Linked DNA regions of Homo sapiens. The protein of the gene in region 2 purifies or fractionates together with the protein of the main gene of each other region. This does not show direct contact. Each region holds a gene or a part of one and is shown on either strand. Other genes may lie near its edges.

Region 1 (8,392 bases), on a different chromosome or scaffold from region 2:
TCTCCAGTACGATCATGGAAGCGGAGAAAACCTTGGTCATCGCAGACCAGCAGGTCCCCAGTGTTGAAGAAAACATCCCCAGGCCGGAAGACATCCTTTAGCAACTTCCCCTGGGCCAGCTCTGGCCCGCCAGCATAGCCCAGGAATGGGGACTGCTGGCTTACCGGGGCCACCAGCAGCCCTGGCTCACCTGGCAGAGTCACCAGGGTCAGGAGTGGTGTCACCTTTCCCAGAGCCTTCTGCCCCCATCCACCCCAGTCTCCAATTCCAGTCCTCCTGTGCCAGCTTCAGCACCCCGCCCACCCCACCAGAACACCACCAACCTGGAGATGTGGCCATACAGTGCCCCTGGGGGTCCCGAATTGGCTCTCCTGTGGTGACATCATAGCGAATCAAGGAGAAGGGGAAGATATGCTGGGGAAAGGGAGACCTGGGTACTGGATCATTGCAGTCACATGAGCCCCCTCTCCTGCCAGCCCTCTGCTGTTCCACGGGTTTTCAGTTTCCTCTCTGCCCCTCACCTTGTAAAGCCAGGAAGCACGCCCCACAGCGCCCCGCTGTCCTGTGTAGTTGATGGTGGCCACGTTGCCCTCTGTCAGTCCATATGTCTCCAGCACCTGCAGGGGCCCGAAGCGCCGCACAAAACGCTCCCAGGTATCTGGGCGCAGCCCGCTGCCCACTGCCAGCCGGACCTTATGGCCACGTTCTGCCTTGCTCTGAGATGAGTGGGAGAGGGGCCGGAGCTTCAGCATCAAGATGCCCGCTCCCGGAAGTGAATTCCTGTTCCCCATTCCCCAGAACCCCCTCCTACTGTGACCTCCTTCAGAGGCCGTAAGCATCAGATGGCCTAGGCCATCTCTGGCTCCTTATCTTACACTGCCATTTTCTTCTTGCTGCTTCTCCCTCCAACTCCCTGTCTCCTGTCAACTGTCCTGCTCCCCGTGAGCTAGCCCTGTGTCAGCAGCTCTGCCCAGGATCTGTGCCCACGCACCGGGGGCTGGTTGACAAGGTATCGGCACAGCTCCCCAATGTACTGGAACACCGTCACCCTGTGCTGCTGGCAATCTTCCCAGAACTGACCAGCCGAGAACTTGGATTTCAGCACCACTGTGGCCCCTGCCAGAAGTGGGCAGGGGGGAAGAAGGGAGGTAAGATTAGGAGCAGAGTGGGGAGCCCAAGCCCCTCTTTCCAGACCCCAGCCATCACTGTAGTCTTTCCCTGGGAAGGGCCCACTGTGGGAGTCACACCGTCAGGAAGCCGTGCTGGCCCTCTTTCCCCTCCCCCGGCCCCTGTCCCCAGCCTTAGAAGAGGTGAATGCCCTTTCCCTACTTCCCAGCCCCAAAGATCTCATCCTCCACACTCTCACTTCCTTGTCTCTCTCTCCCTCTTCTCTTACTTGCCTGTTCCTGGACTGACACAGTCCTTCCCTGCCTTTGACCCTGCAGCCTGGAGTTATGTGGCTGTATGGCCCCCCTCACCGTTCCTCAGTCTGTAGGTCTAGGCAGGTGACATTGCCCTATTGTACAGAGCTCCTGGTGAGTAGGGCTCTGCCCCATCCGTCCTCTAGATTATCTACCCTGGAGGACTCACACCATAGTACGTGCTTAATAAATGTCTACTGGATGAATTAATGAAGGTGGGGTTGGGGAGACTGACCAATGCCCATGCAGCCCACGATGCCCAGCAGGGAACCGGACATGTGGTAGAGTGGGAGGGCGAGGTAGATCACATCTTCCTGGTGGACACCACACAGCTGATAGAAGCCCTGGCATTGCAGGATCTTCAGATGACTGATCCGAGCAGCCTTGGGGAGGCCTGTGGGGTGGCAGTTATGGGACGATCAGGGGAAGGGCAAACTCCAAGCTCTACCTATCTGTTTGCACCCCCGCTGGGTTTCCCACAGAAAGAGGCGGAGGCAGGACAGAAGCTGAGGACCGAGACCAGGCTGTCCTGGAAATATGGGTGGTCTGGGGGAGGTGGAGAAATGAGTAGGAGGTGAGGAGACTGGGGAGTGAAATGATGGGGAGAAAAAGGATGTGCCAATGAAATCAGCATCCTCTCTGGGGGCTTTGAAGGAGTGGTCTGGGAGCAGACCCCTGCCTTCCTCTGCCTTGGTTTCGGGGAGCTAAGTATGGTGCCCGGCCCTCACCCGTGGTGCCAGAGGTGAAGATGTACAGGCACGTGTCTGTTATGCTCTGGGGGGAAGAGAGGTATCCTGGCACTGGCCCATCCACTTCAGCGGACACTTCAGCCAGCAAATCGCTAATTCCAGCAGGGTGGGTTCCTGGGCCTGCAGCCCACAGGTGGAGCCCCATGGCTCTCAGGGCGGGCAGGTCCGGCTCCAGGGACTCCAGAAACTCTAGAAGGGTGGGAAAGCACAACGCCGGGGCCCTGGCTCTACCTAGAAGAGCCTATGACCCATGTCCCCTCCCTATCCCAGCCCACACTGCTCTTGGATGAGGGTGAAGGGTATGGACATTCCATCTTGGGTCTGAGGCCTGGAACTCGACTCCTTGGGGATCCTTGGGGCACCAAAGATTCAGCCTCATCCCTTCTCAAACCCGGAGACTCCTATCTCCACCCACTTTCGAACCCCAAGGGATAGTCGGCTTCTTCCCAGGCCCAGGGATGAGACCAAGCCTTTCTGTGGTCTCCGACACGCCCCCTTCTGTGGCTGGCCCCGCCTTAGTCAGTTCGGAGCTCCAGCCTTACCTGGCGCCAGCACCAGCGCGCGCGCGCCGCAGCTGCGGAGGCAGTGCAGCAGGGGGCCCCGGCGCAGGGCGGTGGGCACAAAGGCAGTGCGCAGGCCGGCCTTGGCCAGCCCGAACCAGAGCCACAGAAACTCTGGGCCAGCGGGGAGGAGCAGCGCCACAGTTGCTCCAGGTGACAGAGGGGCGGCGGCTCCTCCACCTCTGGCGGCACCGTCCCCTCCGGCAAACTCCGCGCCGCTTCCGGCCGCTGCATCTCCGGCTCCCGGCGCTGCCCGCTCGCCTTCTCCAGCGCTCCCCTCGCCGCTGTCGCCGCCGTCGGGTCCCCAGTCCCAGCCTAGCGCACGTAGGAAGGCGCGTGCAGCCCTGTTACTCTCGCGCTCCGCCTCTGAGTAGCTAAAGCGCCGCGAGCCGTGAATGAGAAAGGTGTGCGCGGCGCGCTGCTGGGCCAGTTCCGCGAGGCGCCAGGCCAGGCTGCAGCCCCCCTCGGGACCTTCCGGGTCGGCGGCAGCCGCGGCCAGGGCGCGAGCTCGAAGAGCCCTTTTGCAGCACAGAGCTCGCACCGCAAAGGCCAAGTCCGCCGGAAGCCAGCGCAACTGCGGCCAGAGGTGTAGCTTCAGCAGCAGCAGCGGTAGCAACAGCAGCAGGGGCAGCAGCAGGAGGGCAGCCATGGAGCCCGCTTCCTCTATCGGCACCGTCTGGTTCCAGCCGCTCGCAAACATCCCTGATCCTCCCTTCCGAAAACCTAGGGCCGCTCGTTCTAGCTGAGACTTCTCCTTCCAGGGAGCGCGCGTGCGCTGGCACACGCCCATTCCCACCCAGGCCCCCACCACTCCACACGGGCGGAGAGCAGAAACCCGGGAGGAGTGCGGGTGTGGGGCGGCCCCGGACTCCCAGCCCTCCCCCCACAGCCTACGCTCCGCCCTAGGCGCGCTCCCTCCCGGACTGCTCGCGGCTCGCACCCTACCAGGTCCTGGGCGGTGCTCGCGCCTTCCCTGAATCCCAGGGTTATGTCTGTCTTCTAAGTTGTTTCTCGGCTTGGGCGGTTTAGGCATCTGGCTAAGCCCTAGAGTCCAGGCCTGAGAGCCAGGGCGTTTGGATCGCAGTCCATCTTCCCCTCAATATTTCTCGTTTTCCCGTTAAGGGAAGGTACCATTGCTCTCTCCCAAAAGAATGAACTTGGCCCCTGGCCCATTTGGTTCTGCAAGTCCCGGCCTGCCAGCCGCAACCCCAGGGGATGGGTGGGGGCTGAGAGTTAAATAGGGGAAAGGTGGAAACCCAGACTGCCAGATTTCTGAGGGGTCACGACAGAGGCCCCTCCCTTTGGGCAAGGGTACAATAATTGGGGCCAGCCAGCAAATGCTCTCCATCCTGGTTTTAATTGGGACAGAGGAAACTGGGGAAGGAGAGAGGAAGGAAAAAGAAGCCTCCAGTGGTTTAGACTTTCAAAGGAAGCAACAGCAGTGATGAGGGAGGGGAGAACCTGGATTCTGTAAAAAGACAAATTTTCGGGGTGAAGAGGAGCAGCTCTGTGCAGTTCGCCCAAACTTCACTCCTCAGTCCACCTCCATTCTCCCTGGACAGCGGGGGAACAACAGCATAGCCAAGGAACTCTCCTCTGCTGGTTCACATGGCCCAGCAAGTGGCCACACTGTGGAAGGAAGAGCATCTCTGTCCCTCCCTGGTATCCAGACTTTATCTCCAGGTACAGTTGTCCCTGGAGACCAAGCTGGAGCATCCCTCCCGTCAAGCAGCGAGTCCTCCGGCCATTCTTGGTAGGCACACAGACTTCAACTGGAGGATGACAGACCTTTTGGAAGCATCTTGTTTCTTGAGAAATGAGTAAGGACAGGCCTCATCCTACGGGGGATGGTTCTGCATAGACAGATCAGTGCCTGGCTCCCACCTCCAGTGGCAGCAGGAAGGATGGGTAGTGGCCAAAGCCAAGTCCCTTCTGCTCTAGACAAAAGTGGGGGCAGAACAGGAAGGGAAAGGGGGATGTTCTGCGGTTACAAGTAGGGGTGCCAATCAAATCAAGACCAAGCTATACATGCACGGGGCAAATGCCAGCAGACACTCCAGCACAAAAGACATTCTGGCTTGTTTTATTGTCATTTAAAAACAACTTTTAAGACACGATTATCTCTGCCAAAAAAAAAACAAAAAAAAACAAAAAAAAAAACAGACTCAAGGAAATGGGATCATTTGACAATTCTGTGAAACTTGCCTCTGGGACTCCCTGGGCTCTGGTGTAGATTGAGGTGCCAACCTCAGACCAACCTAAGCCTCCAGGGCACACCACGTGGGGCTGTGGCCACCCTTTCAGACTCCTTTCTGAATGCTTGTGGCATCTGCCCCATGATTAGGAATGGACACCCTGACCACGTCATAGATGCCCATTTCACACTGGCATGTGGATAGTGACTATAAAACGTCCCTTCAGAACAAACCAAGACCTGAAGGGGAAGCAGGAAGGGACACCCACACACTGAGTCTCTGCTCTCATCCTAGCTTATCTGGCCAGCTGCCCCTTTGTCATTTCCCTTCTCTGTTGAAATGGCTCTTTGGGAGACTGGGGGAGGAGATTGCGGAAGGGGCCAGGGGGCTGAGGACTTCCACTATGGTCTGATTTTACAGAGCCTCTGGCTTCAGTCAGATCCCAAATATCACTGGGAACAGCAGTGTGAGGGGCTGGAGGCCCCAGGAGGAGGGAAGGGGCTAGGGGCTGCATGGCAGCTTCTCAAACTCAGCCAGAGGAGAAAGCTCCTCCTTCCACCGGGGGAGCTTGGGGATGCAGCAAGGGTGTTTCCCCTGCAATCTCCTCAGCCTCTATTAACCTTTGAATCACCAAGAAGGAGAGGGCAGTCCAGCCGGGGGTGGGATGGGGAATGCAGGGCCTCAGTCACTGTCAGAGCCCACTGCAGAGGACCCTTTTCGTTTCCGCTTGGTAGGCTTCGGTTTCGTGTCTTCCTCTTCCTGGAAGAGATGGGAGGGGAAATGGGAAGTTAACAGCCTGGGCAGCTGCTGGCGCCGACTCCACCTGCACCCAGTGCTCCTTTTCCCCCTGTGCACTGGCTGGGTTCTCACTGAAGCACTGCTGGAGCCCGACTCTTCTTCGGCATTGGGGGGCTGTGTGGCATTCTTTCGACTTCGAGGGCTGGACAGAGCTGCTTTTCGCCGGCTCTTGGGTGGCTTGGTGGAAGAGTCCTCATATTCCTCCGCCAGGGAGAAGAGATCACTGAATCTAAGGAAAAGGAGCGGTAGCTCTTTGAGTGGGAGCCTGCTGCTCCTACGGCACCTCCCATCCTCTTCTCTGCCCCCAGGCCTAGGCCTTCTTTTTCTTCAACCCTGGACCCTAAGGTCTTGCTGGCCATTACGTTTATGTCCCTAGCAGGCTTCCTCTCCCTTAGGCTTTTCCCCTACTACTTTCCAAGGCCCAAAGTGGCAGGAGCCTCACTTCATCTTGTGGGCTTCGTCACAGCTCGCTTGGACATGCTGCAGCGCCTGGAGAATTGGCGTCTGGCTAAAAACTAGAGGAAGAAAAGGGAGAGCAGGGAAGGAAAAACAATCAGATGTCTGGGAGCTTATTAAACAGCACGCACAGGTTGTTTTATCCCGAGTGTGGGTTGTGGCCCCGGGTGTCCTGCCCCTGCCCCCAGCCTGGCTCCAGGCATAGTCTGGGCCAGGGCAGCACCGTCTACACTGGACGCCGAGGGTGGAAGGCATACAGTTCTGCTTGGTGTTGGTCAGGTTGAGCCGCAGATTGTCCAAGTGCTCCAGGATCTGCTCCAGAGTCAGCTGGGCCAGCTTGCTGCTAGAGCTCCTCAGGCTGTGCAGGAATCACCAGAGCCAGAGTCTGAGTGTGGGAGGGTTCCAGAGTGCGAGACACCCTCCACCCGCCAGGGCCCCCTTAAGACAGAGGCAGCCTACATGGGGAACAGGATAGGCAGCCTGGGAGGGCTGGGGTTGGGTGAGAAAGGTGTGCCTAGAACAGGGGATCCTGGCCACAGGGGCACTGGAAGATGGGGAGAAAGGGCCACGGTGGTCTCGCATGCCATGTGGCTTCGGACCACTAGATGTCGCCCACAAACCAGGCTGGGACAGCACTGACCCCCATCACCACCACCACCACCACCACCACCACCACCGACAGCAATCACTGCAGACCGCCATGGCCTGGAGGGTAGACAGGGACCGTGTCCCACCTCTGTCTCTTGCGAGGCAGGCTGTTGTTCTTGATGAGCAGGGACTTGATGTGCTCGGCCAGCAGCTCGTCATGTTTCATGCACCAGTGCCGCAGGATGCTGGTGGTGAACTGGTCGTCAGGATGGCAGGGCCGGCTCAGCACCATCTTCACCATCTCCTCGCTGGGCCTGGGGGAGGAAGGGGGCACTGGGTGCTGCTTGCACAGTGGCCGCAGGGCATGCTGGGTCTCTCCCACTTATTTCCCAAGCCCTGGCCTCCCCACCCACCCACTACTCTCACATCCCTCTCCCTCTTCTCCTTAGGCCAAGGAATGCCTGGTTTCATCCTCTGTGGAAGCCAGGAGAGAAGAAGTGAGATTCTTCACTTGCTGTGGTAGGAGAAGGCGTGTGCGTGTGTGTGTTGGGAAGGAGGACCCTCAGTTCTCCTCCTCCTCCCCTAGAACAGTCAGGGAGTGGGCCTGGGAGGCAGAAGCACAAGCATGTGGCATGCAGATGCTCCCCTACCCCTACCCTGCTAAAGCTGTGGGCCAACCTGGCTTCCAGCTGGAGGAAGGGGGCAGGAGAGGGTTGTGAAGTCACAGCCCCATACAGCCTCCAAGCTTCCCACTTCCTCTAGGACACTCTGTACCATTTATAGTCTCTCAGGCAAGAGAGCAGAAAGGGTGGAAGGAAGGCAGAAAGGTAGGAAGGATAAGATACACAGCTGCTGCCCCATTTATCGGGGGATGTTGCTAAAGGGCTTTGCGGGAAGAGGGGGCTGCCACCCTCTCCCTCTCTGCCCCACCCTGTCAAGGCACAGTAGGTCCAGCTGGCTCTGCTCTGCACAGGGTGAGGGAGAGGATGGTGCGTGACCCCTCTACCCTGACCCTCCCTCCTCTTGGATTAGCTGTGCGGTGGCCAGCAGGAGCATGGGGCGGTGGGGGGGGCGCGGCGGGGAGCAGGAGCCACCAGGGATTAGAACTGCTGTGGCAGCAGGAAACAGGGATGTCCGGTCCCCACCTCCCCACCTCCGAGGGCAGCTCCTGGTGGGCAGGGGGGTAAAGTCGAGAGGAAGCCCAGATCCCAGGGGAGCTGCTCATTTGTAAGTCACGTTGGGGGAAGGGCAGAATAAGCAGATGTTAACGACAGGAAAAAATATGGCAATAAGGAGGAGGACAGAAGCCCTTTAGACCACAGCAGCTCTTGGGATGTTAAAATTGAGGGCTAAAGAGCCCCAGAAGTGGAACTCACTTTTCTCTTCGGAGTTGAAGCAGTAGGCAGGACAGGGCCTCTGGGTGCTCTGTGAGGGAAGGGCAGAGGCTGTTCAGGGGGAAGGTATGATTCCAGGATGGAATCTGGGGACCTCTCTCATCCCCCAACAGCCACTGGAGGGAATAAGGACAGTCTTTGATGAGGAGCCAGGAAGAATCCCCTACCCCACTCCTATCAGTCCCTGAGCCACCTGAGCCCCAGCCCAGAGCCTGGCTCATGGTGGGCCCA
Region 2 (7,569 bases):
TCCTGGCTCTGCGGCTCTTGCCGGCAAGCAGGAAACCTAACCAAACAGTGTATGTGTCTATGTATGGGGTGCGGATGGCACACAGGGAGTTACTGTCTGGCTATTTAAGAGAAGGTTTCCCTTACTTGTGCTTCACGGTGCTTCTCAAACTTTAGTGTATACTCCAGTCACCTGAGGATCTTATTAGATGGAGATTCTGGTTCAGTAGGTTTGGGAAGTGGGGTGGCAAAGTCCTGCATTCCTTTCAAGCTCCCAGTTGATGGTCCTGGACCTCACTACAAGTAACACGGCTGTAGCTTACCCACCTGTCTGCTCAGCTCTGACACCTGTGGCCTAGAAGGTAAGCTTGGTGGGTTTGTGGCTATGCCAGACCACGCACGTGTGTGCATATATGTGTGTGTTGTGCACTGTAGGCTCTCTTTCCTGCCATCATGGCTGCAAGGCTGAGGCTCAGGTGCTCATGCAGTGAGTGCAAATGTGCCCCTATGCTGAACAAACTCCCCTTCTACTAGAAGCAAACCCCAGGACATACAACTTCCTCTCCCAGAGTAGCAAGCACCCGGAGAGGCCCAGCCTGCTCCTTGTCTCCTCCTCCTCCTCTGTGGGCCAGGCTGACTCACACCCCACACGAGGGGACTCACCACCTTGAAGTCTTCAGCGCTGCAGACCTCCCCCCGGAAGTGGCAGGAGAGCAGCATGTCTCGAATGTCGTGCCCAGCTCGGTCGTAGAACTCACGCATGTTGAAGGGTTTGGGTTTGAAGCTGCGGAAGTTGGCTTTGTCCTGCAGTATCTCCAGCTGCTTTTCATCTGCCATCTGTGTGTCTGGTATCTCATACCTGGGGTCCGGGGGTGAGTGACACACGGGTCAGTACAGTCATCAGTGTCCTGCACCCAACTTGGGTGATGGGGGCAGCCTCCAGCCCTGGGGATCAGTCCCAGGTGTAGGCAAGGAAGGAGAGCTGGGCATGCAGAGGCTCTACCACATGGGTCTGAAATGACAGGAGGAACTGTAGTGGCTGCCCAGGGGCAGGGCATCCCATCCCAGCACATGGGTGAGAGGAAGCATGGATAAGGTGGGCAGAGAGACAAGGCAGGGGCTGTGGCTTTTATACTGTAGTTTCTACCCTTTAAAGATGTTCTGTCCCCATCCCCCAACTGACGAGAAGGTCAAGACAGAGTGGCCAGAATGAAGGTAAAGCTCACTCCAGAGAGGGTGACAATGTCTCATACCTCAGGCTGGGTGGGGGTCGAGCTGTTCTGGACTATGCTGGGATCGGAGGCTGGGTGCCCTTAACTGGGTGCTCAGCAGCACCCTAACTCCTCTGCTGTGAGTGGCAGGTTTGGGGGTGGGGGTGGGTTAAAGGGCAGGGTTGGCTGGGCTCTATGGTGGGTCAGGGAGGCAGACATCCTGACTGGAACTCAAGCAACTCCAGGAGCAGGGCTGAGGGAGGGTGGGAGCCACCCACCTGTTGTTGAGCAGGGCCAGCAGCTCCCCAGCATGATACAGGTCATTCTTGGAGACTTGGCTAAAGCGGAACTCGTTGAGGTTGCACAGCGTGACAGCAGGGAAGGTAAGCTGAGAGGCAGCCACCTCGTCGAGCTTGGTGACATGGTGGTAGTGGAAGTAGTACTGCACACGCTCCGTGCACACACACAGCAGCACAGCCAGGGAGCCCAGGAAGCACAGGGCCCACAGTGCCCGCTTCAGAGACAGCCGCTCGTAGGAGAAGATGTGGGCCAGGCCGTGCAGTGTGGAGCTGCTGGCGAAGGCCTGGATGCTCACCGGCTGGACGCCACCCACCTCCTCCTCCTCGGCCTTCAGTTCCATCCTTGTTGAGGGGATCCTGGGGGAGGAGGGAGGGACAGTCTATCATTGTCCTGGGATGAAAGTACACATGGAGCCCCTCCACATGTGCCCATCCAGAATCCTCATCTCCAGAGGTCACCACTCCTCGGGCAGAAGACTTCCCTGCTTTGCAAGCCCAGAGGTGGCTGACCAAGGGACACATCCAGGGTTCCTCCAAATACAGAGGCACAGGGGGTCAGGTCAGGCCAAGAGAATGCTCCCCAGAGAAGCTTCCCAGGCCCGGGGAGACCCCAGATATAGTCATCCGAGGTTGAGGGGGAAGTCCTGATGCACCCATAGGCAGGCGCAGGAGTTCCCTCCAGATGTGGGGTCACTCTGGGACAAGAATATCCACCCCATCCTGGAGATGAAAACTCACCCAGATGGGCTGACCCCGGGGTAAGGAGCTCCTGTCCTGGTCACGGGTATTCCCTGGACGGGGCTGTGGTCCTAAGGGCTAAACTGGGGCCAGAAAACCCCCAGGGAGGTGGCTACATCTAGGGAGGGGCCCAGCCTGAGTCCTCACCTGCGGGTGTCTCCAGTTCTCACATAAGCGCAGGCTGTGTGTATGTTGGGAGTGGGGGGTGGCGGGCTGCCCGAGGTGGATGTATGGAGGGGGGGCGCGGTTCCCTATGACAGCGAGCTGTCCCCGCCCCGGACGCAGCCCCCCCCAGTCCAGCTTCTCGTCGCAGTCAGATCCCCAGCTCGGCCCCCGCCCCCCTCCCCAGCCACCGAGCCGCCCCAGCAGCAAGGGAAATCCAGAGGGAGGAGAGTCCCGGCTTCGGGGTACCGAGGAGCCTCGCGGCCAAAGGCAGGGGTATCGGAAACCCACCTGAGGGGGCTTCGGCAAGCCGGCAGCCGGCGGCGGGTCCTGGGGCGCTGGACCGGTGGCGGGCTCAGCGCCGAGTCGCGGAGGGGCTCATGGCCCGGGGCCGGAGCCCGCGGCCGCCGCGGCACGCCGCGCAGAGCCCTGCAGGGAGCGCCCCGCCCGGCCCCGCTCGGCTCCGATCTGTCCGCCCGCCCGCGCGCGCTGGCTCGCTGGCTCGCTCGCCTCGGCTCGGTCTGCCCGGGCTCGGCGCGGTGCGCGGTGCTCTCAGCCCTGGGATCTGCAGGGATCCATCGTCCGGCCGGGAGGCGGCGGGAGGGGAGGGGGAGGGGAGAGGGTGCGCGTGCGCGCCTACGAGTGTCTGCGAGGCTGTCTCTGGGCTGGTGTGCGCGCGGGGCCCCGGATCCGGGAGCGGGACCCAGGGCTCCCCGCGCCGCCTCGCCCCTCCTCGCGGCCGCTTTCGGCGGCGCTGCCTCTCTCCAGTCCCGGAGCCGTCTCCCTGCCTGCGAGGCCCTATGGCTTGTGTGTATGACTCTGTGTGTGGTGTGTGTGCGCGCGCGCGTGTGTGCGCGCAGGAGGGAGGGTGTCTGCCCCTAGCGTCCCTCTCCCCGCGCTGTCTCCTTCGGATCGATGCTCCTGCCTCTTGCTGCTGCTTCCTCTGGTGGCACACACGCGCGTACACACACACATACACACACACGCTCCGAGTCACACTTGACTAATTCAAGCACTTAGCCCATATGGAGACAGACACACATACCGACCAGAGTCACACCACACCATTCACAACCACACCCCCCCGCAACAGATGTCCACGTATCCCGGGGGCCTGACCCACATGGCAAGCACTCACCTGCTCTTATCCCTGCTCCCACCTGCATGTGACACATATACACGTGCACATATGTGAGCCAACACGCAGCCTTGACCACTCAGATCCCATCCTTGTAGCTTTGGGCTTGTGGGGGGCATGGTCGCAACCCCTTACTGCCAAATCTCCAAAGAAGGAGCAGAGAAAAGGAAGGAAAAATAGCCAGAGGTCAAGGGAATTTGGACAGAAGGAAGGAGGCAAAGGGAGTGAAGGGGACAGGGTGAGGAAGGGTTGGAACGGGGAGCTATGCTCAGGGATGGAGCAGAAGTCTCAGCACAGAACGCAGGCCTGGGGGCTGCTCCTGTGGCTCTCACCTTTCTCCTTCCCTGCCTCCCTCCTCTTCTCTGAGAGGCCTTGGGGAGGGGGGCCCTCCCTATCCAATTAACAGAGAAGGAGCAATCAAGGGGAAGTTGTTAATTTGCTGATGCTCATTAGGGGCTCTTAGCACAGAGGCTGTTGAGGTCTGATGGTGTCAGATGATGAGGAGGAGGGTGCGGGGGACCAGAGTTCTGTCTCTAGTGGCTCCTTCGCTCTACTTGCAGGCTGGTGCGGCTCGGGGAGAAGGATGGTGAGAGGTGTATTCCTAGGACATGGTGCCGGGCTTTAAGTTAGAAGAAAACCTGTAACGAGAAGGGGATGGCACATTGGAAAGAAGTTGGATGAGAAGTTGGGAGTAGTGGACATCTAGGAAACCAGAGAAGGGGTCTGGAGGTCCCTAGTGGGAGAGTGGACTTAAGATTGTGGAGGAGGGAGGTCGAGATCCATTTACTAGGGGACTGGACACGGAGCTGCCAAAAGGAAGGGAGGATCTTCCATTCAGGTCTTGGGGAGCTGTTCAGCGGTACCAGGCAGTGCTGGAGGGTTGCTATGCCCCCGGGCAGCCACTGGGTGGCAGCCCTCTCCCAGATACTTAGAATCAACTCGTGGGGGGCATTTGAGAGTGGGAAATCACCTGGGAGGGTCCCAGAGACCTGAGGAAGCATCAGGCAGAGTCTGATTCCTGAATTCCAAATATCCTCAGGGGGAGGGGAACACTATTTTGGAGCATCTGTAATTTCCCCACCTCCCCGCGGCTCGCAGGCTGACTGACACGTGGAGCCTCTTCAAATGGCTGCAATTGCTTCAGTCACCTGGGATGTTACTGAGGGAGCAGCGGGGGTGGAGGGAAGGTGATGAGGTGAGGTGGAGGCAGGCGAGGACTGATTGAGGCCAAGGAGCAGCCTCAGGAGGAGTCTGGGGGAAGACAGAAGGTATGAATCAGGAGAATCAGCTTCCAGACCTGGCCCTGCCATTCATTAGCATAGGCAGGCCCCTTGACCTCTCTGGACCTCGGTTTCCTCATCTGTAAGGCAGAGATAATATTTATTTCACAGGATTTTTCGAGGATTACATGAGCTAACGCATGGAAAGTGCTTAGTACATTGGCATGTACCTAGTAAATCCCAATAAGTAAATAACTATTATTAGTATTAGCATTTGGATCTAGTGGTAAAACCACCAGTGCAGCCAAACCAGGGCAGAATCTAAGGCACTGGTTCTTAACCCAGGCTGCACATTCGAATCACCTGGGGAGCTTTTAAAACTGCAATGCCAGCTGGGCGCGGTGGCTCACTCCTGTAATCCCAGCACTTTGGGAGGCAGAGGAGGGTGGATCGCCTGAGGTCAGGAGTTTGAGACCAACCTGGCCAACATGGTGAAACCCATCTCTACTAAAAATACAAAAAGTAGCTGGGCGTGGTGGCGGGCACCTGTAATCCCAGCTACTCGAGAGGCTGAGGCAGGAGAATCATTTGAACCTGGGAGGCGGAGGTTGCAGTGAGCCGAGATTGTGCTATTGCACTCTAGCCGGGGAGACAAGAGCGAAACTCCATTTCAAAAAATAAAAATAATAAGATAAAACTGCAATGCCAGCCAGGCGTGGTGGCTCACGCCTGCAATCCCAGCACTTTGGGAGGCCGAGGTGAGTGGATCACCTGAGGTCAGGAGACCAACCTGGCCAACATGGTGAAACCCTGCCTCCACAGAAAATACAAAAATTAGCCAGGCGTGGTGGCACGCACCTGTAATCCCAGCTACTCAGGAGGCTGAGGCAGAAGTGCTTGAACCCGGGAGACAGAGGTTGCAGTGATCGGAGATCGTGCCACTGCACTCTAGCCTGGGCAACAGAGCGAGACTCTGTCTCAGAAAAAAAAAAAAAAAACTGCAATGCCATGGCTCCACTTTAGACCAGTTAAATCAGAATCTCTGGGGCTGTGGCGCGATCTTGGCTCACTGCAAGCTCAGTCTCCTGGGTTCACGCCATTCTCCTGCCTCAGCCTCCCAAGTAGCTGGGACTACAGGCACCCGCCACTACACCTGGCAAAGTTTTTTGTATTTTTAGTAGAGACGGGGTTTCACCGTGTTAGCCAGGATGGTCTCAATCTCCTGACCTTGTGATCCACCCGTCTCAGCCTCCCAAAGTGCTGGGATTATAGGCGTGAGCCACCATACCCGGCCTTTTTTTTTTTTTTTTTTTTTAAGTTGGGGTCTCACCCTGTCGCCCAGGCTGGAGTGCAATGGCACAATCTCGGCTCACTGCAACCTCCGCCTCCCCGGTTCAAGAGGTTCTTCTGCCTCAGCCTCCCGAGTAGCTGGGATTACAGGCGCACACCACGACGCCCGGCTAATTTTTTGTATCTTTTGTAGAGCTGGGGGTTTCACCATGTAGGCTTGAACTCCCGACCTCAGGTGATCCACCCACCTTGGCCTCCCAAAGTGCTGGGATTACAGGCATGAGCCACTGCGCCCGGACAATCGCCCAACTTTTTGAGGCCTTTAACATATAGCCAATCTTGAGCAACCTTGCTCTTCAGAACTTATGGGTCTGAATTATGGTTTCATAGTGTCACAGGCCCCAGTCTTAGGAAGTTCTTTCTTATATACAACCTAAATCCCTCATGCTGTTGTTTCTTCTTCGTTTGAGAAGTGATGGGTCCTTGCACACACACATCCCCTCATCCCTACCCTGTACATCGCAGCAAACCTTCACCGAGGGTTTTCCTGGATCAAGCCCCAAGATTGGCCCTGTGGACATGGTGAGGATTGGCAGAGTCCTTGCCTCAAAATATCCCAGTGTGGAAAGAGAGACAAACATGTTGACTTGTGACTCTAGTGCAAGGGCCAGGAGTGAAATAGAAGGCTGAGCCAGGGCTGCCAGCAGAGAGAGGCAGGGGGGCAGTCACTCTGACAGGGGTTTGTGGGACAAGGATGAGGAAAAGAGGAAGTTGGTGTTGGCAGGGCCTTAGTAAGATAACACTTGAGGGATCCAAGGGCTGTGATTAGTGTCTCATTACTTCTTTCTGCTTCTCTGGCCCACCCACCCCTTGTCCAAGTCCTGACAGAGGATACTGGCTCCTTCAGCATCCTCCCAGCTTCTTCTCCATGCTTCGTTTTCTCTGGACCCTGCAGTCCTTAGACCTCAGTACCCTTTATCCCCACCACGGACTGAGAGGGAAACAGGCCTGAAGATATTTCTCCTTCTGCTGGCAGGAGGCATCTAGCCAGGGCCCACTTAGGACTTTGGCCTTGTGCTCACCTAGGTTCAAATCTCAGCTCTGTCACACCAGTGCTGTGTGGCCCTGGGCAAGTAACCTAGCCTGAGTCTCACTTTTCTCCAGAAACCATAAAACCCAGCTAATGCCCATGCTGTTGAAACAATGTGTGTCTAGCAAACAGTAGGGGGTGTTCCATCAATAGTGGCAAGCATTATGATCATCCCTGAAAGGCTGATGGGGGCAAATTCCCCATGGATGCTTCCCTTGCAGATGGCCCCATCTGCTTTAGGTGCAGAAGCGCCCTCCAGCCTCTCAGAGATGGGTGAAGAGGGAGGGTAAAGAGGGGGACAAGACCCCCTGGGATTTCCAGGCAGCTCTTCTCCGCTCCCCCGTGCATGAAATCACACGCGCCCCAATCTGTCTGCATCCACTTCATCTGCCGGCTCAGCAAATGCAGAGACAATTAAGGAGTTAATTAGCACGCACTGGGAA
Region 3 (7,470 bases), on a different chromosome or scaffold from region 2:
CTTAATAATAAATACATTTTTGAAAAGTCTTTTTACTTACTCTTTATATTTAGTGTTTAATGCACTACAAGTTGACTATTACTGTTTATCTATATAGCATCAAATAGTAAATATAGATCTTATGCTGGAAATGTCAACCTCCCTGGCAGCTGTAACGCCCATCATTGAAAGGGAAAGCGGAGGACACCATTATGTTAATATGACTTTACCTGTCGATGCAGTTATATCTGTTGCTCCAGAAGAAACATGGGGAAAGTAAGTATTTTTATAGTACCACTGCCACATTTGAATGAGGGCCCTTCCCCAAACCCATGTTTGTATATCCTGTAGGTATACCTAAGGTGTGATTTTCTCCTTGTTTATTATTAACCTAAGAGCCATCTATTAATTAAATGGTTATTTGGAGGAAGTAGGGTAGCATGCTAAAACCTGGAGGATTTCCCTTTATCCACAAAGAGCAAATACACAGTTTCTTTTATAATGTATAATTCAGACTTCCTTTAGCAAACCTGGTCCAATCAAGTTTTTTACTATACTAAGGATATATTAGCTCTGTACTTTTCTTTATTGTAGTCACTATAACTTTTGTTAATACACTTATATATTTCCCCCCACAGAGTTCGTAAACTCCTGGTTGATGCAATTCATAATCAACTAACTGACATGGAAAAATGTATTTTGAAATATATGAAAGGAACATCTATTGTGGTCCCTGAACCACTGCACTTTTTATTACCAGGGAAAAAAAATCTTGTAACAATTTCATATCCTTCAGGAATACCAGATGGCCAGCTGCAGGCCTATAGGAAGGTAAAACCAGTTCATCTATTCTTAGAAAAAACAATAATGACTATCATTCATTTTGTATTTAATTATATATTTCCACTAAATGGAAGGTATTTTGTGATTTAACTTAAAAGTGTGGAATTTAGACTATTCATTTTACACATTATTTAATTTCTGTTCTCATGAAACTTTAAGTAGTATTAATGACAAAATGTTATGTTGAACCTATATGTAACATTTTAATTTTAAATGCTCGGTGTGGTTCATATATTCTGTGAAATTTTAATATTTTTCCATAATGAAATATAGAAATGGTGCTTACATGCCTAAAGTTGCTGGTATTAACAGATTTCTATAACTTTCCGATTTGTGAAAGAGACAAGATTACAGTTAGGGAAGGAAAATGATAACTTATGCTAATTCTGAATAGGATTTATGGTAATACTCCACAAGTAAGGTTATTTGGGCTTTATTAGAGGAATTTTGGAGAAAACATGACCAGCATTCAAAGTAATGAGATTTACTCATGACTGGTTTTGGAGTGCATCTTTTTGATATGTGGACTCGCTTAGAACCTATCAAATTAGACCGTGGAGCATCTTCCTAATTTCTGTCCTTAGGGAGAGCGAGAATACCCTGACCCTCTGTATGTGGAGGTGACTTGGTTTGTAGAAGCAATAGCTACAGGAGCTGATCTTTTAAAACCACTGGAGTACAAGATATGATAAAGAACATGTCAAACTTTTTAAAATACCTATTACATGTTTTTATATAGTTGGGAAAATAACACATTTTAAACATATATGTGTATTTGTTTTCCTGCCATATTGGTTGGCTTTAGACCACTAACTTCTACTCTGTAGTTTAATCACTACCACTTACAATATAAAATATTTGTAAGGCACTCGACACAATTTTGCAAAATACTTTGATATAATTATTGTTAATTATAATTTACTCATTTACAAGGCTATTTCAAAACCAGTCTTTAGCCTGGATGTATTTTAACAGACTATGTTGTAATAAATAATTATTTAAAAATTAGTTCTCTTACTCTAACAATTTATATTCATTTTTCTCTGTTCCCTTCCAGTTTCTACCCAGATACAGACGTAAACGAAAATAAATCTTACTTGGTTTTAGTTCAGTTTTCACCATCTTTGATGTTAGTGAATTAAACCATAAGTGTTTGGAAACTTTTATAACCTATATATAATTTTCCATGTTTAATAACATCTTTATTTATTGACTAGGAATCTAAATCACCAACATTTTTTCTTTTTCTGTTGATTCTGATTTATTTTAGGAGTTACATGATCTTTTCAATCTGCCTCACGACAGACCCTATTTCAAAAGGTCTAATGCTTATCACTTTCCAGATGAGCCATACAAAGATGGTTACATTAGAAATCCACATACTTACCTTAATCCACCTAACATGGAGACTGGTATGGTGAGTTTAACTAATTATTTATGGGAGTCACTGGATCAGTAATGTTATTAGTTGTTTTTTGTTGGTACCCAGTAGGAGACTTGATTCATTATGTATTCATTCCTAAAACATGATTTATCACCCATCTCTGTTAACAGACATTGCTTAAGATAGCAGTAATTAAAAATGGTCTAGAAAAGTTAGTAATAGGTAGATATACCACATTTATCTTACTAAAATTCTCTTATTTCTTTAAAGGCTTGTCCCATTTTTTTTCATTCTGAACCTGAGAAATCATGCTAATTAAGGGCATAGTCTACCCAAACCACACTGTAGGATAAATCTTTTTTTGTTTTTTTGAGACAGAGTCTCGCTCTGTCACTCAGGCTGTAGTGCAATGGTGTGATCTCAGCTCACTGCAACCTCCGCCTCCTGGGTTCAAGCAATTCTCCTGCCTCAGTCTCCTGAGCAGCTGGGGTTACAGGCACCTGCCACCACACCTGGCTAATTTTTGTATTTTTAGTAGAGACAGGGTTTCACCATGTTGGCCAGTAGCTAGGGTTACAGGCACCTGCCACCACACCTGGCTAGTTTTTGTATTTTTAGTAGAGACAGGATTTCACCATGTTGGCCAGGCTGGTCGTGAACTCCTGACCTCAAGTGATCCGCCATGTAGGCCTCCCAAAGTGCTGGGATTACAGGCATGATTCACCATGCCCAGCCACTGTAGGATAAGTCTAATGAGGAACTAGACTTATTTTCCATGTAACATATACCCGGTTGCCAGGGATAGATCCTCCCTAAAGGTAGCTCAAATAAGAGTGAATTGGCGGAGGGTGGTGGAAGGGTTACTTTAAGGATACATGGAGGCCAGTGAGAAAGGACCTTATAAGGCATCCAAGATTAGGAATACCAATAGAGCTGGGCCTCTTAGAAACAGCAGCCCTGTGACTAGCAGGTGTCTTCAGTCTCTCTCAAGGACTCCGTGGATACCTTGGTGGCATTGCTATTGCTTTCTGTGTATGCTTGTGATCCTAACTGGCCTGTTCTTAACTTTTACTCTGTCTGCTCCACCTCATACCCTCTGTATCCTCACTGTTTCAGCTTGTGTGTCACTTTTTCCTGTTCTTCCTCAGCTGCCCAGTGTATGCCTCATTCCAACTGCATTTCCTGCTCCTGGCTGCCTGGCTAACTCTGCACCTCTCAGTTCAGATTCCCAAGAGAAAGAAAACTTGGCTATCGTATGGTGGCATTTATTAATACCTTCTGAGCGTCCAGGACTTTTGAGGAAATCTTAAGAATTAAAAAAATGCATATACGATACAGTACGTACCCTAGATGAGTTAGGGGCCCACTTGTGGTCTTGGTCATTAGAGTGTACTCAGGGCAGCAGATCATCTGCAAAAGCTGTGGGCCAACCAGCTTCCATAGAAAGTTCCTCACAAAAAGAATAGTTCCTTAGAAGAACCTGGACACACAGAAGGTATTGAATGAGTACTGATTGCTTTTTGACAATAAAATAGGTTCATTATATCTGTATTACAAGGTCGTAAGAAAAATATATACTTTACATATTTATCATGTAATATTTGATATGTACATATAACATATGCAAATTGTAAAGCACAGTGGGGAAATGAATACCAGGGAGCTCCTCCCTAATTTAAGAAGCAAAACTTTACCAGTCTGTGCTCTTTCCCTACCCACTCCTCTGCCTCCTCGACACAGTTCCAGGAGGAACTATTATGGGTTTTGTGTTCATCATTTCCTTCCTTTTTAAAAAGTAGTTTCAGCGTATATGTTACATATCAATCTCAGCAATGTCGCTTTTAGTATTGCATAGTTCTGAGTTTTATAAATATGGTATCATTCTGTACGTAGTCTCTGCAGCTTGCTTTTTCACTCAATATTACATATCAAACATCTCTGGTATTTTGTCTAACCATAGTTAATTATCTTTATGATTTTTTCCAAGTTTTTTTGCTGTTTAGACAATGAACATTCCTATACCTCTCGATACATATGTGCAACAGTTGTTAACATTTTGCTATATCTGCTTCATTTCTCCCTCTTTTTTCCCCCTCTGAACCATTTCAAGGAAAATTATAGATATATTATTTACCCTTAAATACTTTGGCACAAATCTCTCAACAATATAGATGTGCATTCATGAAATAAACTCGGTTTGGTTATGACTCATTATTTTTTATTCCCCTCTGGATTCCATTTGCTAATATTTTACGATTTTTGCATCTATGTTCGTGAATGATACTGGCTTATAATTTTCTTCTCTCATACTGTTCTTATTTTGTTTTTTTATTAGTGATATACTGGTTTACTAAATTAGTTAGGTTAATGTTCCTTTTTTAGTTTTTTAGAGAAGTTTATATAAGAGTGGTATGATCTTTCCTTGGTCATTTGGTAAAACTTGCCTGTAAAACAATTTTGGCGTAGCATTTTCTTTGTGAGAAGATTTTTAGTAACCAATTTAGTTTTGGTAACAGCTTTAGGACTTTTTGATTTTTATAAGTTATTTACCTAGGTTTTAATATATCTTGTAGTCATAATATTTTCTTTTTCATTCTTCATATCATTTTTATGCCTTGTGTCTTTTAAAAAAAAAAAAACTTTTGGCTTTGTTGGCCCCCTCTATTATAACTTCTGTATTTGATTTTATTAATTTTTGCTCTTTACTTTCTTTTTTTTTGCTCTTTCTTTGATTTATTGTCTTTCTTCTAACTTCTTAAGTTGGACATGTTAGCTTATTGCTAATATTTCTTTCTTTCTTTTTTTTTTTTTTTGAGATGGAGTCTTGCTCTGTTGCCCAGGCTGGAGTGCAGTGGCACAATCTTGGCTCACTGCAACCTCCGCCTCCTGGGTTCCAGCGATTATCCTCCCTCAGCCTCCCAAGTAGCTGGGATTACAGGAGGGTGCTACCACGCCTAGCTCATTTTTGTATTTTTTAGTAGAGATGGGGTTTCACCGTATTGGCCAGGCTGGTCTCAAACTCCTGACCTCGTGATCTGCCTGCCTCAGCCTCCCAAAGTGCTGGGATTACAGGCGTGAGCCACTGCGCCCGGCCTAATCTTTCTTTTTTTTGAGATGGAGTCTTGCTCGGTTGCCCAGGCTAGAGTGCAGTGGCATGATCTCAGCTCACTGCAACCTCTGCCTCCCTGGTTCAGGCAATTCTCCTGCCTCAGCCTCCCCAGTAGCTAGGATTACTGGCAATAGCCATACGCCTGGCTAATTTTTGTATTTTTAGTAGAGACAGGGTTTCATCATGCTGGCCAGGCTGGTCTCGAACTCCTGACTTTAGGTGATCTACCCACTCGGCCTCCCAAAGTGCTGGGATTACAGGCATGAGCCACCGTGCCTGGACAGCTTTCTTATTTTCTAATGTAAGCTTTTAAATTTCAAGCAAAGCACTGCTTTTAGTGTATCTTATAGGTTTAATTTGAAGGATTTTAGTTTTGTTCACTTCTAAGTATTTTTATATTTTTCTATTATGGTTTTTCTTTTGTCCATGTATTATTTAGAAGTGTTTGTTAATGTCCAAATATGTCAGAATTTATTTTTCTTTTTTGCTTTTTTTTTCTTCTTGTTTTAACTGGTTTCTGACTCTTGCCTCCTGGTCAGAAAGAATTCTAAGTGAAACTAACTCTGAAATTTATTGAAACTTGTATTTGTTCCCTAAAAAATAATAACATATTTGATGGCTTAAAACTACAAAAATGTATTGTCTCAGTTCTGGAGTTCTGAAAGTAGTATCACTGGGCTGACATCACAATGTCAGCAGGACCACCTTCCCTCCATAGGCTCTTGGGGAGAATCCATTCCTTAATCTGATGGCTGCCAGCATCCTTTGGTTTGTGGCCCCATCATTCCGATCTCTGCCTCCTCAGTCACATTACCTTCTCCTCCTATGCCCCTCTCTTTTAAGAATATATGTGATTGCATTTAGGGCACACTAGGATCCAGGATAACCTCCCCATCTTAAGATCCTTAATCACGTCTATGAATACCTTTGCTTTCCTTTTTTCTTTTACTTTTTGGCACAGAGGGTGCATTCACAAGTTCCAGGGATTAGGACATACATACCTTTTGGGAGCCACTTTTCAGCCTGTCACAATGGTCAAGTTATAAATTTTTCTATCTGTGCTTGGGCAGAATATATATTCTCTAATTGTTGGGTGAGGGTTGGTTCTATCTTGTCCCTATCTCCTCTCACTTAATTTTTTAAAAATATCATCAGTTTGGAGCCAGGCATGGTGGTGTGCAACTGTAATCCCAGCTACTCAGGAGGCTGAGGCAGGAGGATCACTTGAGCCTAGAAGTTCAAGACCAACCTGAGCAACATAGTGTGACCCAATCTCAAAAAAATAAAAACAAAAACCCAGTTCTTTAATAAAAAAAGACATATACATTCTTAGCACTATAAGTAAGAATTTATATGATATTAGTAATTTATTTATCTTTATTTTTTGACCCTTAACTTAGCGTCATCAAATAACATACTTGGGCTGTAATCATAGCAGGTTTATAAATTTAGACACATTCTTCCTGTGTCCCATGATATGGACCCTTCATTTGTTTGTTCATTCCTTTATTCCTTCCTTCATTCATTCAGCATTTATTCAGCAGCATTTATATTAACCGTGTGCCAGGCGTGTTGTAGAAGCTTGGGCCCAAAAATGGATAAGACACAGTGTATGTACTCACTGAGCTCACATATTAGTGTAAGTAGGCAGATATTTTTTAAATGATAAGTAATGTATCATTTAAAGTATATCAAGTCATGATATACTTTGAAAAATAAAAACATAAAGAGGACAGAGATGACAGGTGAGGCAGGGGGTGGGGTAGTGAGAGAATGAGTGGGCCGTTTGTAGACTGGATGGTCAAGGAAGACCTTTGACATCTAAATGGAAACCTGAGTGAAGTAAGAGTGCAAGCTGTACAATTAATTTGGGAAAAGAGAGTTCCAGGCCAAGAGAACCATGAGGCTCCAAGGTCATATTGCCCCTGGTATATGGGAACCGAAAGTAGAGGGAGCAATAGGGAAAAGTTTAGGAGATGAAATTGGAGAGGAGGCCAGAAGGTAGGTCCTGCTGGGCCCTGTGGTAAGGACTTTGAACCTCAAATAAAAAGCCAAGAAGGTATAATGTTAAACCATAGATCTGTGAAGGCATTTTTATAAGGAACTAAAGTAACAGTCTAACTCTAAGAACATTAAACATAATTCGGGAGCATAT
Region 4 (7,470 bases), on a different chromosome or scaffold from region 2:
GCAACCACACCTGGCTAATTTTTGTATTTTTAGTAGAGACGGGGTTTCACCATGTTGCCCAGGCTGGTCTCAAACTCCTGCGCTCAAGGAATCCTCCCACCTTGTCCTCCCAAAGTATTGGGATTACAGGCCTGAGCCACCGTGCGCAACCTATGATTTTGGTGGTGGTGTTTTTTGTTTTTCTGTTTTTTAAATATTCTTGAGTATATTTGTAAGCTTTAGATGACCTGTTTTAAGTTATTTAATCTATCAACACCATTATATCTGTTATTACGGCCACTGTTTCTGTTGATTACATTTTTTTTCCTGCCCATAGGGACTTTTTTTTTCATGCATAGTAATTTCTTATTGCTTGACATTGTGAATTTTGCTTTCTTGGGTACCGAACATCACTGTGTTCTTTCAAAGTCTATTGGGCATTATTCTGGTCACAGAAAACTGAGGATCAGTTTGCTCCTCTGATACTAGCTTTTATCTACATATAACTATATACCTTGTGTTCAGTTGCCTTATTCAGGGGCTCATTTAGTTAACTACTAAAGTTATAGTGGTTGACTTCTGATGGTAACTCGCCAGCACCCTGGCATGCGTTCTGTCCACTGTGGGAAGGGGAACATGCAGATCTCCCAGCCCTGAGTGGTCCACAATCTAGTCTCTCCTTCCCTGGGTGGCTTCTTCTCAGGCACCTAGAGTCAGTCTCAGCAGACACTGGACATGTCTTCTGCAAGGATCCAGAGTCCTCCAGGCAGCTGCTTCTCCCAGTCTCTGCCCTGCACTTGGCCTCTGGGAGTTCCTGCCTGTGGTTCTCAACAGAGACTACAGAGCTCTACAGGGTCCTCTGCCCCTGCTGTAGCTGGAGGCTGTCCTTACGCAGTGAGCTGAGGCCACAGCTAGTCTCACTGCATGTGCTTGGCGGCGGGGACAGGAGTGATTCATTCATCAGGTAGAGGAGGAACCCTTTACTCTGGGAAAATCTGTGCCTGGGTTGGGGAAGGACAAATGAGCCCTGTGTGAATACTGACTACTCCCTGGAGCCCACAGTCTGGTGGAGCAGGTGACAGCAGGGACCTAAATAACTATCAGGAAGCATGAGGTCCCACCACTGTCACCTCCCCCACCTCCAGAGTGGCTGTGCTGGCTCCAGAGATGTCATCCCTCCATATTTGACTGACAGAGGGAGGCTGTGCAGTCCCAAGGCTCCAGGTCATGGTAGTTTGGCCAGGATAATATGGTTTGCTTAAAATCAACATTGAGGGTAATGATCGTACTAATCAGAGCATGTGTTTAAAGTTCTGTGTTTTAAGCACTTTCCATACATATTAACACTTTCAGTTCACACAACAACCTATGCAGGAACTGTGATTATCCTGGGCAGTTTTAAGGATGTGGGTGACTCAGAGAGGAAAGAAGAGGTTACTCGGGTTAATTTTTGACGAGAAATATTAGCAGGTTTTATGCTCAAACTTGGTGTAAAGCAAGGAGCCTGAATCACAGGTGGGTGAGTCACAAGACAGGGAAACCCCGCCAATGGCTCATGTCCGGGAGGAGGCAGGGTCCCTAGAATTCAATGGGACAAGAACTGAAATAAGCCAAACCCCTGACCTCCCTTCTTCTTGTTTTCCTTCTCTCTCTTAACCATGCCCATGGACACCCCCATGAGCCCATTTCTGTGGCCCAACACAGCTGTGCATCTCTGGCCACACGCCCATTCTCCCTCAATCAGAGAGGCCCACGGACGGCACAGCCTCGTCCTGCACAGCAGAAAGAGTGAATGGTGATGAATGGATCTATATTATTTCAACTCTCCTACATTTTGTAATCATATTACAATATTAATTCAGCAGTACCTCTCTTGTTTTTACTCCCCTCCCCCATTACACTGGATTCCTGTCTGTCTGGGATTCTGTCTGTGTGCACTCTTTCCTCTATGTCCACTACTGTCCCTGCCACCGATGGCATTTGTCACCTCTGCCTGGGCAGCCCCTCCAGACTCTTTGCAAGTTCATGGACTTTGGGGTTAATGATGGCTGTGCCTCAGCTCCTGTGAATGGAAACTGTGCTAAGGAAAGGAAGGGCCGTGCCATGTTCCCGATACTCCACGGCTCCTTGCATATGCGGTCGCCAGGCGCCTACATGCCTTCCATGAATGAATGAATGAGTAACGTGGATTCTAGGAAGCTGCACTAACCCAGACGTTGTGTCCTCAGCCTGCTCATAGAGTGTGTTAAACGTGAGAGGTGGGGAGTGTGGCAGGCAGGCTGAGGACAGAACAGAGGATCTGAATAGAGTACGGAGGATCACCCAAGTCCAGAGTCACCAAGGCCATTGTCAAGTTTTCCCCGGGGACATCCCTCATCAGATCCACCCATTAAAGATCATTGTTCACCCAGTGGAGAGTGGACTAGGTGGGTGCACTCAGGTGTGGCCTGGACAGCATTCGGGATGGGTCCTAGTGGTTAGGGTGAGGGTCAGGTTGCATTATCGTGAAGGAGGCAAGTGGCAGCTGAGGCAGATCTGAGGGAAATGATGATAACGCAGGCCGGTGATGCAATGGGTTTGGTAAGAAGAGGAAAGAGGTTTGTGGTGGATTCTAGTGTTTCTAATCTGAGACTTGGGTGAGGTCATTACCAAATAAGAAAGAGTAAATGGGCATAAATGGCTTTAAGAATTAGGAACCTGAATGTGCTATTGGAGACAGTATGGGCACGTCATTGCTCATAGACCTGCAGTACACAAAATGCTAAAAGATTTCAATCTGAATAGAGATGAAATGAAATGGAAACATGGATTTTTTTTTTTTTTTTTGAGACAGTTTCACTGTTGCTGCCCAGGCTGGAGTGCAATGGCGCAATCTCGGCTCACTGCAACCTCTGCCTCCTGGGTTCAAGCGATTCTCCTGCCTCAGCCTCCTGAACAGCTGGGATTACAGGCGCTTGCCACCACACCCAGCTAATTTTTGTATTTTTAGTAGAGACCGGGTTTCACCATGTTGGCCAGGCCAGTCTCAAACTACTGACCTCAGGAGATCCACCGCCTTGGCCTCCCAAAGTGCTGGGATTACAGGCATGAGCCACCTTGCCTGGCTGGGAACATGGATCTTAAGGAAAGAAGGAAGATCATCAGGAATAGAAATATGAATGCACATATAAAGAATGATTATTTCCTCTTAATTTCTTGAAAATATTCACTATCAAGTAATATAACACTTTGTAGGGTTTGTAACATATGAACATGCCTGAGACAACTATAGCAGAAAGAATGAGTAGTGGAGATGAATCAATCTGTATTATTTCAAGTCTCCTACATTTTATAATATTACCATATTAATTCTGCCATACAACTCAGTAATGAAAAGGAATGGAGTACTGATGCATATGAAAATATGACCGAATTTCAAAATAATTATGCTGAGTTAAAGAAACCAGACAGAAAAGCATATATAGTATCTGATTCCATCTATGATATTTATAGCCAGAAATGGTTTAATTAAAAAAGAAGAAGGATCTTAAATCAACGAGCTAAGTTTACAAATGTAGGAATTAGAAAAAGAATGAACCAAACCTAGAGTTAGCATTATAAAGGAAATAATTATTAGAAGAGAAATAAATAAAACAGAGAATAGAAAAACAGTAGAGGCCGGATGTGATGGCTCACGCCTATAATCCCAGCACTTTGCGAGGCCAAGACAGGAGGATTGCTTGAAGCCAGGAGTTTGAGACCAGCCTGGATATGGCAAAACCCTGTCTCTACAAAAAATATAAAAAGCAGCCTGGCCCGGGGGAGCACACCTGTGATCCCAGTTACTCGGGAGGCTGAGGTGGGAGGATCACTTGAGCCCCGGAGATGTAGGTTGCAGTGAGCCAAGATCACATCACTGCACTCCAGCCTGGGCAACAGAGTGAGACTCTGTCTCAAAGAAAGAAAGAAAAAGAAAAAAGAAAAACCATAGAGAAAATCCACAAAACCAACATTGATTCTTCAATACTATTAATTAAACTGACAGAATTCACTAGTGAATTCTAACAAGCTTTTAATGAAGAGCTAATACCACTACTTCTCAAACTCTTTCAAAAACTTGAAGAGAAGGGAACCTTTCTTGACTCTTTCTGTAAGGCCAGCATTGCTCTGATACCCAAGCAGATAAAGATATTACAAGAAAATAAAGCTATATCCCAGTATCCCTAACTGATGCAAAAATCTTCAACAAAATACTATCAGAGAGAATTCAACAGTACCTTAGATGGATTATACACCATGACCAAGTTGGATTTATTTCCGGAATGCAAGAATGTTTGAACAAATGAAAACTGAACAATGTAATACATTGCATTAATAGAATGAAGGGGGAAAAAGACACATGATCATCTGAGTTGATACAGGGAAAGCCTCTGATAAAATTCAAAGCCCTTTCATGATGAAAACACCCAGCAAACTAAGAATAGAAGAAAACTTCCACAACATCATAAAAGCCATGTAAGAAAACCCCACAGCTAACATCATACTCAGTGTTGAAAGACGGAAAGCTTTTCCTTTAAGATTAAGAACAACATAAGGATATCTACCCACCTTTGCCACTCAGCATAGTACTGGAAGTTCTAGCCAAAACAGGCAAGAAAAAGAAATAAGAGCATCTGGACTGTAAAGGAAAAAGTAAAATAATCTGTGTTTTCAGATGATATGATCTTACTGGTAAAAAATCCAAAAGATTTCACAAAAAATTAAACTGCCAAAAATAAAATAATATTAAATTTTTAAAATTTTGAAATTTATTGTTGTTCAGTAAAAGACAGTACAGATTGCAATCTGGGAGATTTCAAACCAAGTGGTAAGAAACTTGCCTTACAGCAGGTATAGTACAGGCTATAAAGGAGGATGTATTTTGACAATTTCATGATTGACTTATAAATTTATATTCTTTTTAAAGGCAATCAGAGCTGTTTAAGCTGATTTTTCTATAGCTGCTTGATTTAACTTCACTGAACCATATTATGTCATGATGAAGGTGTAAAACTTATATTTTGTGGGATTTTTTATGATTATAGCTAATGTTTCAGGGATATCAGGATGTCTTAAGTTTTGGCTACATGGTTATGGGTAATTGCCGTGGGGTATATCTAAACTGTGTTTTTAATTTTTATTTAGTAGTACTAAAATGAATTCATCAAAGAAGCGGAATACAAAATCAACTGGAAAAGTCAATTGCATTTCTATACACTACCAATGAACAATTCAAAAAAAGAAATTAGGAAAAAATCCATTTACAATAGTATCAAAAATAATAAAATAGGAGTAAACTCACCAAGGAGGTGGAAGACTAGTACAATGAAAACTATAAAACATTACTGAAAGTAATTAAAGAATACAAAAATAAATGGAAAGATATGCCATGATTATGAATTATAAGACTAATTATGTCAACATTTCCTAAAGTGATCTATACATTCAATGTAATCTCTATCAAAATCCCAAGGACATTTTTGCAGAAATGAAAAAATGTATCCTAAAATTCATATGGAATTTCTAGGGACCAGAATATCCAAAACAATCTTGAAAATGAATAAAAATGTAGTAGGATTCACACTTCCTGATTTTCAAAACTTCCTACAAAGCTGCAGTAATCAAAACAGGATGGTACTGACATAAAAGCAGATAAATCGATCAGTGGAATAGAATAGAGGAGCCAGAAATAAACACTCACATATATGGCCAAATTATTTTTCACAAGGATGCCAAGACTGTTGAATGGAGGAAAGGGCCGTCTTTTCAATGAAGGGGGCTAGGAGAACCGGATATCCACATTCAAAAGAATGAAGTGAACCTTAGCCTAACATTGTATTTAAAAAATAGCTAAAAACAAATAAAAGATGTAAATGTAAGTGCTAAAGCTATAGAACTCTTGAAAGAAAATATAGGATAAAAATTCTGTGACATTGGATTTGGCAATAATTTCTTGGATGTGACACCATGGACATAGGCAACAAAAGAAAAAATAAACATTTTGGACTTCTTGAAAATCAGTAACTCTTGTGAATCAAAAGATACTATTAACTGGATAAAAAGGCAAAACCCACAGAATGAGAGAAAATATTTTAAGTTATATATCTGATAAGGGCTTAATATCTAAAATATATAAAGAATTCCTACGATCTAACAAAACAAAAACAACCCAGTTAAAAATGGGCAACTGATTTTTATAAACATTTCTCCAAAGCAAATATACAAATGGTCAATAAGTATATGAAAAGATACTTTAATCACTAATCATTAGGGAACTGCTGGTCAAAACGACAGAGATACCATCCTATACCCATCAGGATGACTATTATAAAAAACACACACAGGCCGGGTGCGGTGGCTCATGCCTGTAATCCCCACACTTTGGGAGGCCAAGGCAGGCGGATCACGAGGTCAGGAGATTGAGACCATCCTGGCTAACATGGTGAGACCCCGTCTCCACTAAAAAAAAAATACAAAAAAATTAGCCCGGCGTGGTGGCAGGCGCCTGTAGTCCCAGCTACTTGGGAGGATGAGGCAGGAGAATGGCGTGAACCCAGGAGGCGGAGCTTGCAGTGAGCTGAGATGGCACCACTGCACTCCAGCCTGGGCGACAGAACGAGACTCTGTCTCAAAAAACAAAAACAACACACACACACAATAAGCATTAGCAAATTTGTAGAGAAGTTGGAACCCTCGTGCCCTGTTAATGGGAATGTAAAATGGTGCAGCCACTATGGAAAACAGTATGATAGTTCCTCAAAAGTAAAAACAGGATTAGCAGATGATCCATCATTCCCACTTCTAGGTATACGTCCAAAAGAATTGAAAGCATGGTTTCAAACAGATATTTGTACACCCACGTTTATAGCAGTATTATTCACAATAGCCAAAAAGTGGAAGAAACTCAAGTTGGACAGATCAATAGATAATGTGGTATATTCATACAATGGAGTATTACTCAGCCTTGAAAAGGAAGGAAATACTGGCACATGCTACACAATGGATGAACATTAAAGACATGCTCAGTAAAATGCCATTCATAAAAGGACAAATGAAATAGGATTCCACTTGAGGTACCTAATGTAGTCAAATTCATAAAAACCAACAGTAGAATGTTGGATGCCAGCGGTTGTAAGGAGGGAAGAATGGGAAGATGAAATAACTTCTGAGGATGGATAGTTGTGATTATTGCACAACAACATTAATAAATGTAGTGTCACTGAACTATGTATTTTAAAAGATTAAAAGATAAGTTTCATGTTATATATAATTTACCTTAGTTTTAGATTTAAAAAAACAGCATTTATTTTAGTCACTATAACAATTACACATAAAATGGAAATATTGTTGATTTAAAAAGCCAATGCACAAGCTGGGCACGGCGGCTCACACCTGTAATCCCAGCACTTTGGGAGGGTGAAGCGAGCAGATCACCTGAGATTGGGAGTTCAAGATCACCCTAACCAACACGGA

The links.
Region 1: the proteins of ASIC1 (region 2) and SLC27A3 purify together in Homo sapiens (affinity purification with mass spectrometry; 2 studies listed by BioGRID and IntAct, with this or other methods). This does not show direct contact.
Region 3: the proteins of ASIC1 (region 2) and UFSP2 purify together in Homo sapiens (affinity purification with mass spectrometry; 2 studies listed by BioGRID and IntAct, with this or other methods). This does not show direct contact.
Region 4: the proteins of ASIC1 (region 2) and TNFRSF10B purify together in Homo sapiens (affinity purification with mass spectrometry; 2 studies listed by BioGRID and IntAct, with this or other methods). This does not show direct contact.

Annotation. Positions count from the first base shown.
Region 1 is NC_000001.11:153,770,485-153,778,876, reverse strand, and holds the start of SLC27A3 (long-chain fatty acid transport protein 3), read right to left. Parts: upstream 3,471-8,392; 5' UTR 3,380-3,470; coding exon 2,713-3,379; intron 2,360-2,712; coding exon 2,150-2,359; intron 1,816-2,149; coding exon 1,657-1,815; intron 1,117-1,656; coding exon 992-1,116; intron 717-991; coding exon 522-716; intron 415-521; coding exon 324-414; intron 191-323; coding exon 1-190. Other genes in the region: INTS3 (integrator complex subunit 3), read right to left, coding at 5,607-5,684, 5,796-5,952, 6,166-6,238, 6,437-6,537, 6,914-7,081, 8,144-8,192. UniProt on the Homo sapiens protein: Mainly functions as an acyl-CoA ligase catalyzing the ATP-dependent formation of fatty acyl-CoA using LCFA and very-long-chain fatty acids (VLCFA) as substrates.
Region 2 is NC_000012.12:50,053,027-50,060,595, reverse strand, and holds the start of ASIC1 (acid-sensing ion channel 1), read right to left. Parts: upstream 3,001-7,569; 5' UTR 2,680-3,000; intron 2,427-2,679; exon of another isoform or gene 2,374-2,426; intron 1,846-2,373; 5' UTR 1,830-1,845; coding exon 1,468-1,829; intron 838-1,467; coding exon 642-837; intron 1-641. UniProt on the Homo sapiens protein: Forms voltage-independent, pH-gated trimeric sodium channels that act as postsynaptic excitatory receptors in the nervous system, playing a crucial role in regulating synaptic plasticity, learning, and memory.
Region 3 is NC_000004.12:185,408,495-185,415,964, reverse strand, and holds part of UFSP2 (ufm1-specific protease 2), read left to right. Parts: intron 1-97; coding exon 98-255; intron 256-617; coding exon 618-810; intron 811-2,092; coding exon 2,093-2,239; intron 2,240-3,551; exon of another isoform or gene 3,552-7,470. UniProt on the Homo sapiens protein: Thiol-dependent isopeptidase that specifically cleaves UFM1, a ubiquitin-like modifier protein, from conjugated proteins, such as CD274/PD-L1, CYB5R3, DDRGK1, MRE11, RPL26/uL24, TRIP4 and RPL26/uL24.
Region 4 is NC_000008.11:23,058,682-23,066,151, reverse strand, and holds part of TNFRSF10B (tumor necrosis factor receptor superfamily member 10B isoform 1 precursor), read left to right. Parts: intron 1-7,470. UniProt on the Homo sapiens protein: Receptor for the cytotoxic ligand TNFSF10/TRAIL. The adapter molecule FADD recruits caspase-8 to the activated receptor.